Homo sapiens: one gene and its partners. The protein of the gene in region 1 purifies or fractionates together with the protein of each later gene. This does not show direct contact. Each region holds a gene or a part of one and is shown in the gene's direction. Other genes may lie near its edges.

What was found. Proteins that work in one complex are often made in the same cells at the same time.
Region 2: the proteins of THAP8 (region 1) and BBLN purify together in Homo sapiens (affinity purification with mass spectrometry; 3 studies listed by BioGRID and IntAct, with this or other methods). This does not show direct contact.
Region 3: the proteins of THAP8 (region 1) and PRMT7 purify together in Homo sapiens (affinity purification with mass spectrometry; 3 studies listed by BioGRID and IntAct, with this or other methods). This does not show direct contact.

Annotation. Positions count from the first base shown.
Region 1 is NC_000019.10:36,034,466-36,037,434, reverse strand, and holds the end of THAP8 (THAP domain-containing protein 8), read left to right. Parts: intron 1-1,842; coding exon 1,843-1,995; 3' UTR 1,996-2,451; downstream 2,452-2,969.
Region 2 is NC_000009.12:128,155,316-128,163,264, forward strand, and holds the start of BBLN (bublin coiled-coil protein), read left to right. Parts: upstream 1-4,949; 5' UTR 4,950-5,092; coding exon 5,093-5,171; intron 5,172-7,949. UniProt on the Homo sapiens protein: Essential for intermediate filament organization in intestinal cells, interacts with intermediate filament and regulates intestinal lumen morphology.
Region 3 is NC_000016.10:68,342,019-68,349,018, forward strand, and holds part of PRMT7 (protein arginine N-methyltransferase 7), read left to right. Parts: intron 1-3,656; coding exon 3,657-3,784; intron 3,785-4,126; coding exon 4,127-4,262; intron 4,263-5,192; coding exon 5,193-5,276; intron 5,277-5,612; coding exon 5,613-5,660; intron 5,661-6,323; coding exon 6,324-6,413; intron 6,414-7,000. UniProt on the Homo sapiens protein: Arginine methyltransferase that can both catalyze the formation of omega-N monomethylarginine (MMA) and symmetrical dimethylarginine (sDMA), with a preference for the formation of MMA.

The DNA of each region.
Region 1 (2,969 bases):
AGTGTCCCCCAGGCCCTATCTGAATCCCTTTTGCCTCTATATTTTACTGCTGGGTGTGTGTGTGTGTGTGTGTGTGTGTGTGTGTGTGTGTAGGGGAGGAATTTGAGGAAGGTGTTTGTGTGTGTGTGTGTGTGTAGGGGAGGAAGCTGAGGAAGGTGTGTGTGTGTGTGTGTGTGTGTGTGTGTGTGTGTAGGGGAGGAAGTTGAGGAAGGGTGTTATGTCTCTGTGTGTGGGGTGGCGGGGGAGGAAGATGAGGAATGGTGTTATGTCTCTGAAAATCACAGTTTGACCAAGGCGAAATTTCTCCTGTCTTAAAACCCTAGGGCCAAGCTTGAGGTGCCCAGCTTAGCCCCCATGGCTTTCAGAGCCCTGCTTGTATGAGAGAGATGCCCACACAGAGCTCTGAATGCTAGACTCACTGAAGGGGCTCAGGAAGGAGCCCCCACAGTACCTCTGGAGTTAAGGAGTATCCGATTTTTTTTTTTTTTTTTTTTGAGAAGGAGTCTTGCTCTGTTGCCCAGGCTGGAGTGGAGTGGTGCGATCTCAGCTCACTGCAACCTCTGCCTCTCTGGTTCAAGCGATTCTCCTGTCTCAGCCTCCCAAGTAGCTGGGATTACAGGCACGTGCCACCATGCCCAGCTAAGTTTTGTGTTTGTAGTAGAGACGGGGTTTTGCCATGTTGGCCAGGCTGGTCTTGAGCTCCTGACCTCAGGTAATCAGCCCACCTCGGCCTCCTATAGTGCTGGGATTACAGGTATGAGCCACCATGCCCAGCCAGGAGTCTCAGATTGATAGTCAGTGGTTTGGACATGACCCACAGATACAATTTGTTTGGCCTCCGCAGTGCTTTAAAATAATTTATAATGGCCGAGTGCAGTGGCTCACACCTGTAATCCCAGCACTTTGGGAGGCTGAAGCAGGTAGATGACTTGAGCCCAGGAGTTTGAGACCAGACTGGGCAACATGGTGAAACCCTGTCTCTACAAGAAACACAAAAAATTAGCCAAGTGTTGCACCTATAGTTCTAGCTATTTGAGAGGCTGAAGTGGGAGTATTGCTTGAGTCCAGAAGGTCAAGGCTTTAATGAACTGTGATTGTGCTACTGCACTCCAGCCTGGGTGACACTGTGAGACTCTGTCTCAAAAAAAAAAAAAAAAAAAAAGTCTGGTCTTTCCTGAAGGCTCTGCATATCTAGCAGCACTGGGCTTGGATTCTCAGGTGATAGCAGTTGGCTGGAGCTACAGTGTGGCTGCCTCTGGGGCCTTGAAGTTTGAGACTGTGGCCTGGGGCACAGAGGGACAGTGGGGCAGGGACAGAGCTCAGACTCGGGCCTGGGGCTCTTTGTGGAGCCTGCCAGATCCCCTGAGCTGACTGCCTCTCTCTGCCTCCCCTCCTGTCATTCAATCTCTGTCTCCTACTCATCTATCCCTACCTCCCAATCTCCTCCCTCCCCAACATTCATTGTCTTTCTGCCCATCATCTCTGTCCGCCACCTGTTTCCCCACCTCCCTGTGTCTCTCTTTATCTGCATATTTTCTGTCTCCCCCATATCTCTGACCCTGTCTGTACGTCTGTCTGCCTGCACATCTCTTTCCCCCACGTGTCTGCGTCTGTGCCCCCGCACTTCTCTTCCCATTTCCCCACCCTTCTTTCCTTTCCCATGAATGTCTCTCTGGCCCTCACATCTGCTTTCCTGTCTCCTCATATCTCTCCCCACATCTCTCTCTGTTTCCTGACACGCCCTCCTGCCACCTTTGCCTCCCTGTTCCTCACCGTTATCTGTCTGTCTCTCCCGCAACTTGCTTCGTAATGTTCCCCATCTCTACCACTTCTTTGCCTTAGACAACAGCCCAGACCCTTGGACCTGAGGAATCCCAAACCTTCACCATCATCTGTGGAGGGCCTGACATAGCCATGGTCCTTGCCCAGGACCCTGCACCTGCCACAGTGGATGCCAAGCCGGAGCTCCTGGACACTCGGATCCCCAGTGCATAAGGATCAAGACAGACAATGTCGAGGGACAAAAGATAGAAGATGGAGGAGGAAAGACATTATACGTGGGCTTGGCCCAGCCCCACCGCCCACGCCTGGGTAGTAGCAGTGCCTCCCTCAAGGGCCTGGGTTCTACCACCCCACTCCTAGGGATCTCTTGAACCTTAGGGGTGACCTGGGCCCAAGTCTCTCATCAGCCCCCAATCCCCTGGGTACCAGGCTTCTGCCACCCCCGGCTCAGATCTTTGCAAATCAGTACGACAGCCTCAGAGCAGAGCAAGGGTTGTTTGGGAGAATCATACCTGGTTCTAAGGAGTCCCACGCTTTTTGCCAAGCCTGGTACTGAGTTCATGATACCATGGTGGACACAGCTGAGAAAATCCCTGCCCTCATGGTGCTCATTCTACTTGAGTAGACGATGAACTAGTAAACAAATAAACAAGAACACTGCAGACATGAGCGATGAGTGCTATAAAGACAACAAAAATTTGGTTTGGGCCTGGGGGAGGGCCCTCCAAGGCCATGTTTTAGCAGAAACCTGGGTGATCAGAAGGGGCTGGCCTGGAGCGCTACAGGCTCAGGTTCCAGAGGACGAACAACCCCTGCAGTGAGGGCCTGCTGTCTGGGATGTGTCAGGTCTGGGAGGCGGTGTTGCTATGGAGAAAACCATAGTAGGGAAGGGAGGAAGGGGTGCAGTTTTAGAGCAGAGAAGGTGAAAAGACACCAACAAGTAAGATCCTAAAACAGGGCAGAGAGGGAGCCACGTAGGGATTTGGAGGAAGAGCATTCCGGGCATCACAAAGAGCCGTTGCAGGCCAGGCACGGTGGCTCACGCCTGTCGTCCCAGCACTTTGGGAAGCTGAGGCAGGCAGATAACCTAAGGTCAGGAGTTTGAGACCAGCCTGGCCAACATGGCGAAACCCCGTCCCTACTAAAAATACAAAAATTAGCTGGGTGTGGTGGCACAGGCCTGTAAT
Region 2 (7,949 bases), on another chromosome or scaffold:
TGTTTTTTTTTGTTTGTTTGTTTTATTTTGACATGGAGTCTTGCACTGTCACCCGGGCTGGAGTGAAGTAGCATGATCTTGGCTCATTGCAACCTCCACTTCCCAGGTTCAAGAGATTCTCCTGCCTCAGCCTCCCAAGTAGCTGTAATTACAGGTGCCCATCACCATGCCTAGCTAATTTTTTTTTTGTATTTTTAGTAGAGACGGGGTTTCACCATGTTGGCCAGGCTGGTCTCGAACTCCTGACCTTGTGATCTGCCCCCCCCTTGGCCTCCCAAAGTGCCTAATTGGTTTTTTACACTGTCATGCCCACCTTTGAGTGGTGCCTTTGTTTTAGCCTTCGTTTTGCATACTCACAAGCCAATCAGCATGCACTCCCCATTCTGAGTCCAGAAAAGCCCTAGACCCAGCCACACTGAGGGAGAGACTGCCCAACTTGGGGTGCGGGACCACTCTCACATCCCCTCTTTGCTGAGAGTTGTTCCATCACTCAACAAAATTATTCTCTGTCCTCCTCACCCTTTGATTGTCAGCGTATCCTCATTCTTCTTGGACTCCGGACAAGAGCTTGAGACCCACCAAGTGAGGGTACAAAGAAAGCTGTAACAGTGCTAGGGTTGAGCCAGCTCTGGAGCCACAGGCCAGAGCAGGTAACAGGGCTGACATCTTCCTGGACAGGGGTGTCACTGGCTGGGGGTCTCCGGCCGGCAGAATGACCAAGAAAAATCCTGTGTCACTATCATAAATCACCACAAACTGTGGGTTTAAAACAACACCTATATATTCTGGAGGTCAGAAGTTTGAAATCAGTTTGACTGGGCAGAAATGAGGGTCCACAGAGCTGTGCTTCCTCCAGAGGCTCTCAGGGAAGCTGCTCCCTGCCCTTCCCAGCTTCTCATGCTATCTTCCTTGCACCCCTTAGCCTGTGGCTCCTTCCTCCTTCAAAGGCAGTGGAGCATCAGCAAATCTCTTTCTCTGCTGAGGGCCTCACTCTCAGCCAAGGAGGGCAGGCTAGGCTGGGCACCATGGCTCACATCTGTAATCTGAGCACGTGGGGAGGCTGAGGTGGGAAGATCACTTGAGTCCAGGAGTTTGAGACCAGCCTGGGCAAGATGGTGAAACTCTGTCTCTACAAAATTGAAAATATTAGCCAGGCGTGGTGGTGGTATGCCTGTAATCTCAGCTAATCTGGAGGCTGAGGTGGGAGGATCACTTGAGCCCAGGAGTTTGAGACCAGCCTGGGCAAGATGGTGAAACCCTCTCTCTACAAAAATAAAAATATTAGCTGGGTGTGGTGGTGGTGCACCTGTAGTCTCAGCTAATCCAGAGGCTGAGGTGGGGAGTTTGAGGCTGCAGTGAACTATGATTGTGCCACTGCACTACAGCCTGGGCCACACAGTAAGACTCTGTCTCTAAAAAAAAATTAATTAATTAATTAATTAAATTTTAAAAAGGAGGTGAGCCTGACCTGGATGAGAGGCCGTTCCCCAAAATTCTTTGGGTGCTGGTTCAATGTCCTTCTTGCTCTCGCTCAATCTAGTTCAGGGAGGAGAAGGCAGGGCTGACCATGTGCAAGTCGCTGGAGACCCTCACAGCAGGCTTCAGATTCCACCATGCCCCTGCCTTCCTCAGGTAGAACAGTGAGGGTGGCTTCTGGGACAAGAGAGGATTCCACCCCATTGTCATTGTCTGGGATACATGCTTGGGCCTGACCTGGCATTGAGGATGGCCTGCCCACAGGGACAGCCAGTGTGAGACCAGGTCCAGGCTGCTGCAGCCATGATGCCTCCATGCACTACAGCTACTGGAGTCCCAGTAGGTGAGCCCCTCTGCCTAGAACGTGGGCCTGATTCTCAGCTGGACCCCTGGGCAGGATCATAGCTCTGGGTCCAACCCAGGGGTGACACTTGCCGGCTGGGTGACTGTGGGCAAGCCGCCTTCTCCTAGCTGGAAGTAGAATGTGGGATGACAGCAGCTGGGCCGATTGTCATGAAGCCTTTCTTGATGAGCAGTCCATGAAGCACTCTGCCCACGGCCCTCTACCCTCCACTGCAGCACTCACAGGCGGGGGCAGCAAACCTTTCCTTTATTGGAGAATGTGACACACAGTCCTGGGTGGGTTTGAGGTGAGCTTGAACTAAGGGAAGCCTCACCCCTGTCCTGCCCCTGTCCCAGTTAAGGGGCTCTCCCTAAAATGAACTATTCCTACTTCTCTTTATTTTTTAAAAAATTAAATCTAGCCAGGAATGGTGGTTTACACTTGTAATCCCAGCACTCTGGGGGGCCAAGGCGGGTGGATCACCTGAGGTCAGGAGTTCGAGACGAGCCTGGCCAATATGGTGAAACTAAAAATACAAAAATTAGCCGGGCATGGTGGCATACACCTGTAATCCCAGCTACTCGGGAGGCTGAGGCAGGAGAATTGCTTGAACCCGGGAGGCAGAGGTTGCAGTGGGCCAAGGTCGCACCACTGCACTCCAGCCTGGGTGACAGAGTGAGACTCTGTCTCAAAAAAAAAAAAAAATTAAATTTTTATTTAATCTTTTTTTCTCTTTGGCTTCTCAAAGTTCAACTTAAAAAGGTAGCTCCAGGGACCAGGCGCGGTGGCTTATGCCTATAATCCCAGCACTTTGGGAGGCCGAGGTGGGCTGATCACGAGGTCAAGAGATCGAGACCATTCTGACAAACATTGTGAAACCCCGTCTCTACTAAAAATACAAAAATTAGCTGGGCGTGGTGGCGTGTGCCTGTAGTCCCAGCTACTCAGGAGGCTGAGGCAGGAGAATCACTTGAACCCAGGATGTGGAGGTTGCAGTGAGCCAAGATTGCGCCATTGCACTCCAGCCTGGCGACAGGGCAAGACTCCGTCTCAAAAAAAAAAAAAAAAAGAGGTAGGTCCAGGCCGGGCATGGTGGCTCACACCTGTAATCCCAGCATTTTGGGAAGCCAAGGCAGGTGGATCACCTGAAGTCAGGAGTTTGAGACCAGCCAGGGCAACATGGTGAAACCTCGTCTCTACTAAAAATAAAAAAAATTAGCTGGGTGTGGTGGCAGGCACATGTAATCCCAGCTACTCAGGAGGCCGAGGCACAAGAATTGCTTGAACCCGGGAAGGAGAGGTTGCAGTGAGCTGAGATCATGCCACTGCACTCCAGCCTGGGCAACAGAGCAAGACTCTGTCTCAAAACAAACAAACAAACAAAGGTAGGTCTGCTCCAGGCCAAACTTTTTATTTATTTATTTTTTGAGACGGATTTTCGCTCTGTTGTCCAGGCTGGAGTGCAGTGGTGCAGTCTCAGCTCACTGCAACCTCTGCCTCGTGGGTTCAAGTGATTCTCCCACCTCAGCCTCCTGAGCAGCTGGGATTACAGGCACACGCCACCACGCCCGGCTTATTTTTGTATTTTTAGTAGAGACGGGTTTTCACCATGTTGGTCAGGCTGGTCTCAAACTCCTGACCTCGTGATCTGCCCGCCTCGGCCTCCCAAAGTGCTGGGATTACAGGCGTGAGCCACCAGGCCTGGCCTTTTTTTTTCTTTTTTTTGAGACAGGGTCTTGCTCTGTTGCTTAGGCTGGAGTGCAAGGGCACGATCTCTGCTCACTGCAACTTCTGCCTCCCAGTTCAAGTGATTCTCCTGCCTCAGCCTCCTGAGTAGCTGGGACTACAGGCGTGTACCACCACACCTGGCTAATTAAACATTTTATTTTTAATTAATTAATTAATTTTTTTTTTTTTAAAGACAGGGTCTCACTCTGTTGCCCAGGCTGTAGTGCAGTGGTGCAGTCATAGCTCACTATAGCCTCGAACTCCTGGGCCCAAGTGATCCTCCTGCCTTAGCCTCCCAAACAGCTGCAACTAAGGTGCATGCCACCAGGTCTGGCTAATTTTTTTTGTGCTTTCTGTAGAGACGGGGGTGGGGGGGGCTGAGTGGGCGGGGGTGGGAGTAGGGTGTCTCACTATGTTTCCCAGGCTGGTCTCCAACTCCTAGGCTCAAGCAATCCTCCCACCTCGGCCTCCCGTAGCGCTGGGATTACAGGTGGGAGCCACCCCGCCTAGCTAATGTTCCTGTTTCTCTTGTCCAGAGCTGGAGTCCAGCCTGATTCCCACCCACAGGTTGTAACCAATGAGCCCTAAGAGAAGCGCTGAAGACCAGGAAGGCCCAGATCCAGGGGTAGGGGTGTTGGGTCCTCTCCACTGGGGTGCAGGCAGAGAGGCAAAGAGGAAGGAGACCCTTCGTGACTCTCAGCGAGGCTGTGAAGAAGAATATCCGGAAGCCACAAGAGGTATATCCGGAAGCCACAAGAGGTGTGGAAACCCCGTTTCCAAGGCTGGGCCCAGTAGCTCGTGCCTGTAATCCCAGCATTTTGGTAGGCTGAGGCGGGTGGATGGCTCGAGCTCAGGAGTTCGAGAGCAGCCTGGGTAACATGGCGAAACCCCTCCCCCCCCCCCCCCCCCGTCTCCAAAAAATACAATAGCCAGCGTGGTGCAGCCGTCTGTAGTCCCAGCTACTCTGGAGGCTCAGGTGGGAGGATCGCTTCAGGCTGGGAGGCAGAGATCACCCCACTGCATTCCAGCCTGGAAGACAGGGCCAGGCCCTATCTCAAAAAATAACAAGGAAACCCCGTTTTCGATTTCGCCAACGCGGAGGGGCCGAAGCAGCAGATGGGCTTGGACGGTCTCCCGCCGCTCCTCCCGGACCTCCCTACTCCTGGGCTTTTCCAGGGGCAGCCCCGTGGTGGCCCCGCCCAGCGCCCGGGAGAGGGGCGAGGCCGGGGGCGGAATGGGCGGAGTTCGACTGTGAGGGAGGTGGAGGCGGGAGTCCGGTGGTGGGGGTGGAGTCTGGAGGTAGGGCGGGGCCAGAACAGCGGCGGGGGCGGAGTTCCGGCTGGGGGCGGGGCGGGGCGGAGCGGGAGCTGCGGGATTCCGGCTTCAGGGGCGGGGCACCGGCCTCTGGGCGGAGATCTGCTGCCGCGTTCTACCCTTCCGGCCCGTGTTCTATCCGCCGCCTCCACCTTCCATCCGGCGCCGGCTTTCGGCGCGACGGTCGCCGCGTTCCATCGTCGCGCGGCCCTTCGGGCGCCCGAGCCCGCAATGTCGGGCCCCAACGGAGACCTGGGGATGCCGGTGGAGGCGGGAGCGGAAGGCGAGGAGGACGGCTTCGGGGAAGCAGGTGACCCGAGGGGGCTGCTGGAGCAACCTTGCATTTTCAGGGCTGCCCTCCCGGGAAGGGGAATCGAGATGGGGTCTCGGAAGGGAACAAAGAGCCCACCCATTCCGCCCCGAGCGGGTCCGGAGTTGTAGGTGCTGTCTCGGATGCAGGGCGAGCACCCGCGAGCCGGTTCCCAGCCCCGTGAGAGCTGCAGGTCACCAGTCCCGTTTTACAGATGGGGAAACTAAGGCAGCTTCGGGGACACTCGCCCTTGTGGGCCTTGCTCCACCACTTCCTTCAGTCCTGGGGGAGACCGAGGCACCTGAGGGAGGCAGGGTTGAGCTTAGCGGAGGGGCCGGGCCGGGACGTGGAGTTGGGGACGCGGGGGCGTCGCTCTGCCGATTCAGCATCCCCAGCCACCCGGCTTTGCTGGTGTAGCCTCACAGCCTTGCCAAATGTCAGCAGCTTACAGAGCAGCCTTTTGCGTGCTTACGAGTGCAGGGGTGGGGTGTGAAGAGAACCATCGGCTCCCTTCTCACCTTCTTCAGCCTCAGTTTCCCCCTCTATAAAATAGGAATAACGATTAGTGTCTGCTGCACTGGGATGTGTCAGAATTAAATGCAAAAAAAAGGAAAATCCTTAGCAGGTTCTAGCATGCAAGAGTTCAGTAAATGGTTATCGTCATTATTATCTTTGGTATAGTAAAGATTGGCATGTTAACATACACTGAGGATTTAGTAAATGTGGTGTAAGTATGGTGCATGCTCTTTGTTTTGTTTGGCGTAACAGCTTTATTGAGCTATACAACTTACCCATACTGTACAGTTCAGTAGGCTTTTGTGTATTCCCAGGGTTGTACATCCATCACAATAGTTTCAGGTAGCTCTGCATTGGGCAATGCTGTTGGGAGCATCAGGAAGAGCTTCCCAGGAGGTCACATTAAGTGGATGTTGGCAGACAGGACTTAGAACAGTGGGGAGGAGGGTGGTGTCCCAGGCAGAAGCAAAGGCTTGGAACTGGGAAGTACCCTTGACACAGATAAAGCCTGGCCTGGAGGGGTGTGGGGCACCTGCCTCCCCAATTCCTCCTCCTAGCCTGTATCCCAGGACACAGAGTTCGAAATATTGATAATAATGACCATCCACTAAGTACTTGCTGTGGCCAGATCCTGTCTGAGCTTTTTTTTTTTTTTTGAGTCGGAGTCTTGCTCTGTTGCCCAGGCTGGAGTACAGTGGCGTGATCTTGGCTCACTGCAACCTCCGCCTTCTGGGTTCAAGCGATTCTCATGCCTCAGCCTCCCGAGTAGCTGGGACTACAGACGCCTGCCACCACGCCTGGCTAATTTTTATACATCTTTAGTAGAGACAATGTTTCACCACGTCGGCTAGGCTGGTCTCGAACTCCTGACCTCAGGTGATCCACCCGCCTTGGCTTCCCAAAGTACTGGGATTACAGGCGTGAGCCACCACACCGGCCACTGTCTGAACTCTTGATGTGTTTGAATCCTCACAACCTTTTTTATTTTCCCTTTTTTCCAGAAAGGTACAACTTGCTGGGGTAAAGCAGAGCTGAAATTCAAACCCAAGTGACCCTGACCCCCAAGTCCAATCCTGAGTTTCGGCTGTTACCAACCTGGAGGACCCTGGGCAGGTTCCTTCCTTCTGAGGCCTCGGTTTCCCTAGCTATATACCATGAGGGGGTTGGACTTTAAGATGCAGCCGATTTCCCAGGACGCTGTCGTCTGTGAGGGTGGCTGGCTCTAGGCAACGGGTGCCCTTTCCTAGAACACAGGCACATATGCACCCATAACCCAGATACGCTCCTCCAGCTCCTCCACCGGCTGCTTCCCCCTTGGTCTCAAGCTGGCAGCTGAGTGTATGTGAGTCATGGGCTGGCTCAGAACTGGGTCCCGCAGTGGGCACAGGCCCAGACCTTGAGTCCTCAGGGACACTGTGTTGCTGAGCAGGGCAGCTCTGGAGTGGCCGTGGAGGGGAGGGAGTGATGGTTTCTAGTGGAGACCAGGGAAGGCTTCTTGGAGGAGGCATTTTGAGCTGGTCCTTGAAGGGCTGTTGTGGTTGAGGCATTCTAGGTTGCAGGGATAGTTGAGCAATGGCGGAGAGGCTGGAAAGTCAGAGGCTTCATTCATTCACTCACTCAGTCATTCAACAAATGCTTATTGCAAAACTGTGAGGGCACCAGGGAGCCAGCAGCGAACACAGGACCGTTCATCTTTCATGGGGAAACATAACAGCACTCAGATAAGCACAGCAGTCAATCCTGGAGAGAAGGTCGTGGAGGGCTGAGGAGGGCTAGGGGCTCAGCATAGAGGCCTGATCCAGTCTGGGGCATTGGGTGGGCTCCCGGTGGTGACATCCATACTGAGACTTGAAGGATGAGTGGGACTCATCCAGGAGGAGAGAAGGGAAGGAAGATGGGAGGACCCAGCACCTTCCAGGCAGAGACAGCAGCATGTTCAAAGGGCCTGAGGTAGGTAAAGGCAGGTGTGAGAGAGGAAAGGAAGAGGCAGGGAGGCAGGGCTAGCTAGGAGGCAGGGGCTGGAGACTCCGCTGGGTGTTTTATCCTGAGGGAGCCACAGAAGGGCTGGCGAACAGGGCCCATCTGGGGACAGAGGCCTTGAATGCCCAACTCAGGAATGTGGGCTCTGGCCACTAAGCAGCTGCTGCAGGAAGTGCAGAGACTTGGCATCTGGCAGGACTTCCCATGTAGGACACTGGCTCGCCACCCTATGACCACCCTAACCCTAGAAAAAAGGATGCAGTACTAAAGTGTCATTCATTC
Region 3 (7,000 bases), on another chromosome or scaffold:
TGTAATCCCAACACTTTGGGAGCCCCAGGTGGGTGGATCATTTGAGGTCAGGAGTTCGAGACCAGCCTGGCCAACATGGAGAAACCCCACTTCTACTAAAAATACAAAAATTACCCGGATGTGGTGGTGCGTGCCTGTAATTCCAGCTACTCGGGAGGCTGAGGCAGGAGAATTGCTTGAACCCAGGAGGTGGAAATTGAAGTGAGCTGAGGTCACACCACTGCACTCAAACCTGGGTGGCAGAGCGAGACTCTGTCTCAAAAAATAATAAGAACAAAAAATAAACTGTTAACCAAATGTCTCCCAAAGTTAGCTTGGCCCGGACCCAGGAATGATTAAGGGCAGTTTGGACATTAAAGCAAAATGGGGGTTGGTTAGATGAGATCTCTTTCACTGTCATAATTTTCTCACTTTTTCGCAAAGGCAGTTTTGGTTTCAGGACCAAGAAATAGAACCTGTCTCTACCCAGGAGCGCCTCAGGCACCATCCTTTGTCCATGGTCCAGCCTGCCTGGCCTTAACCCCTGGCTTTGTGTTGAATGCTCACCTGCTGGTTCTAGGTGTCCACAACATTATGGAAGGCCTTAGCAGCTTCACCTACCCCATTCCCAGAGTTACTGTTTAGGCCGAAGGGTTGTGACTGCTGGGGAATTGCTGTCAATCAGCGTACCCATACCGACAGCAGCATGTGAGACTAAGAAGTATGTGAGCTTCCTAGTCTCCCCTCCACCTTCCAGGTGCCTGGCCCCGGGTGTGTGTGTGTCCAGCCAGGGCCTGCCAGCATCCCTCTGCAGGCTGTGTGTGTGTCACTCTGAATTCACCCACAGAGTTGAGATTGGCACCGCGTCACATTCTTCCTAAGACTGTGTTGCAGAATTAGCATAAGAATAGCATTAAAATGTTAGTACTTTTGGCCGGTGGCTCACTCCTATAATCCCAGCACTTGGGAGGCCAAGGCAGGTGGATCACCTGAGGTCAGGAGTTCAAGACCAGCCTGGCTAACATGTTGAAACCCTGTCTCTACTAAAAATACAAAGAAAATTAGCCGGGCATGGTGGCAGGCGCCTGTAATCCCAGCTACAGGGCTGAGGCAGGAGAATCACTTCAACCTGGGAGGTGGAGGTTGCAGTAAGCTGAGACTGCACCATTGCCCTCCAGCCTGGGCAACAAGAGCGAAACTCCGTCTCAAAAAAAAAAAAAGTTAGTACTTTTAATTTGCATATCTTCGGAGCGCTACTATGTATTTTTTCTCCTTGAATCCTCTTAGTAGACAAACAAGGTAACCACAACCATAGCCAACCCGGGACTCAGCAGGCTCCAGGGATTGGAGCGGGGCCTTGTGTCCAGGAGCAGTAGAGTGGGTCCTGCCCCTGGTCTCTTGACTGTGGGTCTTGTGTTGTTTCTCTACCAGCGTTGACTTTTGGATTGGAAATTTGAAAGCTGCTAATGAATCTCCCTCATGAATTCATGTAACTGCTTTGATCCTAAGTATATTTAGTCTGTCCCACCTTGGCACAGTGGGTTCTGTCACCAGCTCCTCAACGTTAGGACCCAGGAGGTCCCTGTGGTAGGTAGTATGGGAAGGACATGATGACAGGGCAGTGCCATGGGAGCCTAGGAGGGGTCGGGAAAGGGTTCTCCTGTCTTCTTCACATGCATTTGCATAGTGTGGGAATGAATAAAAGGTTTAAAAGAACCTGTGTTATTCCTGTTACTATTTATTTTTCCAGAACATATCTGGTCAGATTTTCATTTTCTAGTTTTTATGTTCAAGTAAGCGTCTTAAGCGTGTGGGAATGTCATTCTCCTGCCTTTTTGTTAAATTAAAGACCAGGTGGGTGGGCACATTCCTTACCTGTGCTCTTGGAGTCCCACAGGGCCAAGTTTTTCTTAGTTCCTGAAGGTGACAGAATGAGCAGGCAGTCGTCTCATCAGAGTTGAGCCAGGCATCTCCTGTTTTTGTTTGTTAGAGACAGGGTCTTGCTTTATTGCTCAGGTTGGATTGTGGTGGCACCTCTTAGCTCACTGCAACTGTGAACTCCTGGGCACAAGCGATCCTCCCACCTCAGCCTCCTGAGTAGCTGGGACTACAGGCACTTGCCACTATGCATGGCTAATCTTGTGTTTTTTGTAGAAATGGGTGTCACTGGTATGTTACCCAGGCTGGTCCCGTACACCTGGCCTCAAACGATTTGCCAGCCTCGGCCTCCCAAATTGTTGGGATTACAGGCATGAGCCACCGTGTCCAGCTGGCATCTACTTTTTAGGGCAGTTCTTCCTTTTTCAAAAAGAGGCTTAACAATTATGAGCGAAATAAACCTCATTATATAAAATAAAAATATCACTCATGGTCCTCCCTTTCACTCAAAATAGCTCCCTTTGTTTGGTCTCTCTCCAAACGCGTGGGTGTCATCGGTGCTCATCTCTGTTCCGGGCCCCGTGGCCTTCAGCAGCAGCGTTTAAGATGTCTGTCCGTATTCTGCACGAGGGTTTATATCCCGTTCTGAGTGCTGGCCATTTGGGTGGGTTCCAGTTTTTGCTGGTATAAATAATTCTGTGATTTGCATTTTTATGTGAATATAACTTTTTTTTTTCTTTTGGGGTTTTCTTAGGATAGAAACCTGTATGTGGGGTTTGTAGTAAGGACTAGCACAGCTTATTAAAAATTGACCGTGGATCATTGTCAACCATGTTTCACAATTTAGAATATTCAGTTATTTAAATACTTCAATTTAATTCAAAGAATAAGCCAAAACCTTTTTGTATTTTCCCACCTTTTTATTTTGAAAAATTATATATCCACAGAATAAGTGAAAATGAACACTGATGGTCGCTTTATTAATTTAAATTTACCAGTTGTTAACGTTTGCCACATCTGCTTTATCTTTGTCTTTCTGCCTCCCTTCCTGCATCTCTACACACACACACACACACACACACGGGCATGCACATTTTTTTTTTTTATTGCTAAATCATTTGAAAGTAAGTTGCAGACATCTGACACTTTACTTTTAAATACTTCAACACTTATCTCCCAAGAATGAAAACAGTCTGCAACATAAATGAAACACATGATCACACCTAAGAAAAACAGTGGTTCCATAGTATCGTCTAACATATGGTTCAAAATAAAATTTGTCTCCAGAAGTCCTTGATAGCTTTTGTTTCCTCAGTCTACGATCCAGTTAGGTTTAGTGCATTGAGTCTGACTGTTTTGTAAATTCCGAGTACGTTAAAGCCTTTGGAATGCGTGCCATGGACTGTTCTGAAAAGGTTCCCCTTAAACCACTAGGTTTAAACCAATTTTTTTCCTTCAAAGGAAACATTCAGCACAGCTCTACGTGTTGAAGAGAGAGCTTTGGTGCTACTCTGATGGGGTGGGGACTGGAGCCTGCACTTGTCCCCTCCCCTGAGCCACTCTGGCAGATTGCTGCTCTTGGCCACATTGTGTCTTCCTAAAGCCAGCAGGGTTCCCGCAAACTTTTGGGCCACTGGCCTCTGAGTTTAGAGTTTATTTATCTCCTTGGCCACAATAGCCAGCTGTAGTCTACATTGTGGACGTCCTGAAAACTGGCAGTTCTCTGGCATTTGGCTCCTGGATTAGAAGCATTGCTCATACTGCAGCTCGTTGACAGCTGACTCTGTTCTCCGTTTCAGTGGCGGGACCACTGGATGCAGTGTGTGTACTTCCTGCCACAAGAGGAGCCTGTGGTGCAGGGCTCAGCGCTCTATCTGGTAGCCCACCACGATGACTACTGCGTATGGTACAGCCTGCAGAGGACCAGGTACGTCGAGCCTCGTGGGGGTGGAGGATGAGCCTCTGAGACTTGTATGTAAATTCCCCATTTACAGATCCTCTGGAGGTGCCAGTGGGTTGATTTGTGTCTGGACAGAATAACATAAGAACAAAGATTTGTGACCAGTGTGTCAGTGCCCATTCGTGTGTACCCAGGAGAGGCTGTCATGGGTTGCTGGAATCTGTTTAGAGCAGATGCGTAGGAAAAGTCTGGAATTAGCGGGTGCTCTAAGCCCTCATGCCTACTGGAGACCAGTGTCCAGATTCATGCCCTCTGGAGACCTGTGGAGGCGCTCACAGCCCACGTCTGTTTGTTCATCTCCTGGCCTAGCCCTGAAAAGAATGAGAGAGTCCGCCAGATGCGCCCCGTGTGTGACTGCCAGGCTCACCTGCTCTGGAACCGGCCTCGGTTTGGAGAGATCAATGACCAGGACAGAACTGATCGATACGTCCAGGCTCTGAGGACCGTAAGTGTCCAGCCCCTTGGCTTGTTGTGGGGAAAAGGGAGAAAGAAGTTTGTCCCATGAACCCCAGCACTTTGCTTATGATTTGCTGTTTCTTTCCTGTGTCCTCTTGTCTATGAGTGGCTTCAGCGAGCGCCTCCTGGGTGGGCACTGGAGCAGAAAGCGGGAGAGCCTGGGGCTGGACTTCCTGAGGGCTTGCTCTCTGCTCTACTGGGAGAGCCTCTGGCTGGGCTCCTGCTGGACACCTTTGCCTTGTCAGACACAGTCATTGCTGTGGGTGGTCACGGTGGATTAGGCCACCCCCTCTTTTCATGTGTTGTCACCTTTCTAAAATTTTCTAAGATGTAAATCTGATCATGTCGCTCTCCTGCCTGAAAACCTTTGCTCCCTGCTACCTGTAGCAGGGGACTCGGCTTGGGGATTACAGATGGGGCTTAGAGGGAGGGTCTCTTGAGGCCCTTGGGGGTGTGTACAGAAATAGGTGTGAATGTGTGCATTTTGGGGGATGGGGGGAGGATCCAAGCCATCCTGAGTTTCTCTCAGAGGGGTCTGTCACCCAGAAAGGCATCCTTGCCTTTGGGCAGTCAATTGTGAACACTCAAGCCTTGGAGGCTCTCAGCTGTCTGTGCTCTAACCAGACAGGGAAGAAGCCTGTTGTCATGGACTGGAAGGTGGCCTGCAGGTGGTGCAGGCCTTCAGCGGGGCCTCTAGGCTGGGTTGAGGGGTGTCTTTCCTGACACTGGGGACAGGTGGGGAGATGTGAGCAAGGCGGGCATGTTTGTGGCTGGGGGTGGTTACTGCATGAGGACGCAGGGGGATGGTCTGAGGTCTGGGCAAGTGGAGTGAGAAGGGAAGTATTTCTGACAGCTTGCCAGCAGGAATCTTCTGGCAAACTGGAGGAAGCCCTGTGCTGAGCTTGCCTGTTCCCCGCAGGTGCTGAAGCCAGACAGCGTGTGCCTGTGTGTCAGCGATGGCAGCCTGCTCTCCGTGCTGGCCCATCACCTGGGGGTGGAGCAGGTACTGACATGCACCCTTGTCAGCCTCCTGATGTGGGCTTGTGAGTTAGAGCATTGCGTGGTCCGGGTGCACAATTCTGTGATCAAGGCTCTTTGCAAAGGCCACTGTTGTGGGCACAGCATGCTCGGGTCAGGGGCTGGGGGGTTTATTGCCTGTGCGTGCAGGCAGGCGTCAGGCCTCAGAGCTGGTGTTCAGGCTGCCCCAGGGAGGGAATGAGGGCAGGGAGGGTTGTTCAGGTGTGTCCTCTGTCTTAGGATGGTCTTGTCGCATTTTAATCTTTAATTTCTTCTCTGTTAAGTGAATATCTTACAACTAATAGCGTGGTGTTCCCTCTAGGTGTTTACAGTCGAGAGTTCAGCAGCTTCTCACAAACTGTTGAGAAAAGTAAGTGAGAATTGTTGTTGCTGAAATAGTGAGAGGACCTGTGGGGTCTGGGTTGATGGCTTTGAAGTGGCATTGGCCCCAGGGGAACAAAGGAGTGGTGGCTCGCTTGCACCCCTGTGTTGTCTTGGTTGCTGCCTGGAGAGCAGCCAGAGGCCTTGGGAGCTGTCACTGAAATAGAGGCAGGCATTTGCACTCTGCTTTGTTTTTTTGTGTCTGAAGAAGTTTAGGCTTTTTTCCTCACTTCACATAAGCTACTGTTGCGGTAGAATTAAATGTAGGATGTGTTTCTGGGACATCAGTGCTGAGGGAGCCAGTGCTCACAGCCTGATGGGAGATGGCATTTCTCTCCCTGGCCAGTAACTGGTTTGATTTCCTCTCCAAAGGGGAACTCCCTTCACCAGAACTGCAGGCTCGCACTGAGTCCTGGTGTGCACATGCGGGAGAAATTTCTTTTGCTTTTATCACATTGTGCTCCTGATCTCATCCGTGGTCTATAGGATGCCCCCCAAGGAGAGGATTTTTCCACAAAGCAGATAAAAGTGGTGTTCCAGAACCATTTGCCGGAAAATTCAAAGCGGAGAATGCAACTTTGAGAGATTTTTTTTTCCTGACAAACACAATACTTTAGTATGAATACAGTAATTTTACGGTTTTCTTTCTAAGATCTTCAAGGCTAACCACTTGGAAGATAAAATTAACATCATAGAGAAACGGCCGGAATTATTAACAAATGAGGACCTACAGGGCAGAAAGGTGAGTAGCGGGAGCCTTTTGGCCACGCTGGGCTGTGTTAGGGTGGTCAGCACGGCACTGAAGTAGCCCAGGCCCCACCCTGTCCCTGGAGTCTCACAGTGGGTCCTCCACATGCAACCTTACCTCCTACGAGCTCCCACCATCAAGGGTGTGGTGAAGCTTTCATGGAGCTGCCCGGTGAGCAGATGGTTGCACTGCTCTTTTTTTTTTTTTTTTTTTTTTTTTTTTGAAAATGGGGTCTCGCGCTGTCGTCCAGGCTGGAGTGCAGTGGCACGATCTTGGCTTACTGCAGCCTCGACCTTCCAGCCTCAAGCGATCCTCCCACCTCTCCCGAGTAGCTGGGACTGTAGGCATGTGCCATTATGCCTGGCTAATTTTTGTATTTTTTGTAGAGTCAGCGTTTCATCATGTGGCCCAGGCTGGTCTTGAACTCCTGGGCTCATGCGATCTGCCAGTCTCAGCCTCCCAAAGTGTCGGGGTTACAGGCATGAGCCACCACACCTGGCTGTACTGCTCTTAGCTCAGCCTCATCTCTGCTCCTTCAGGTCAGGACAGAGCAGCTCTCTTGGGGTTCCTAGGAGCAGAGC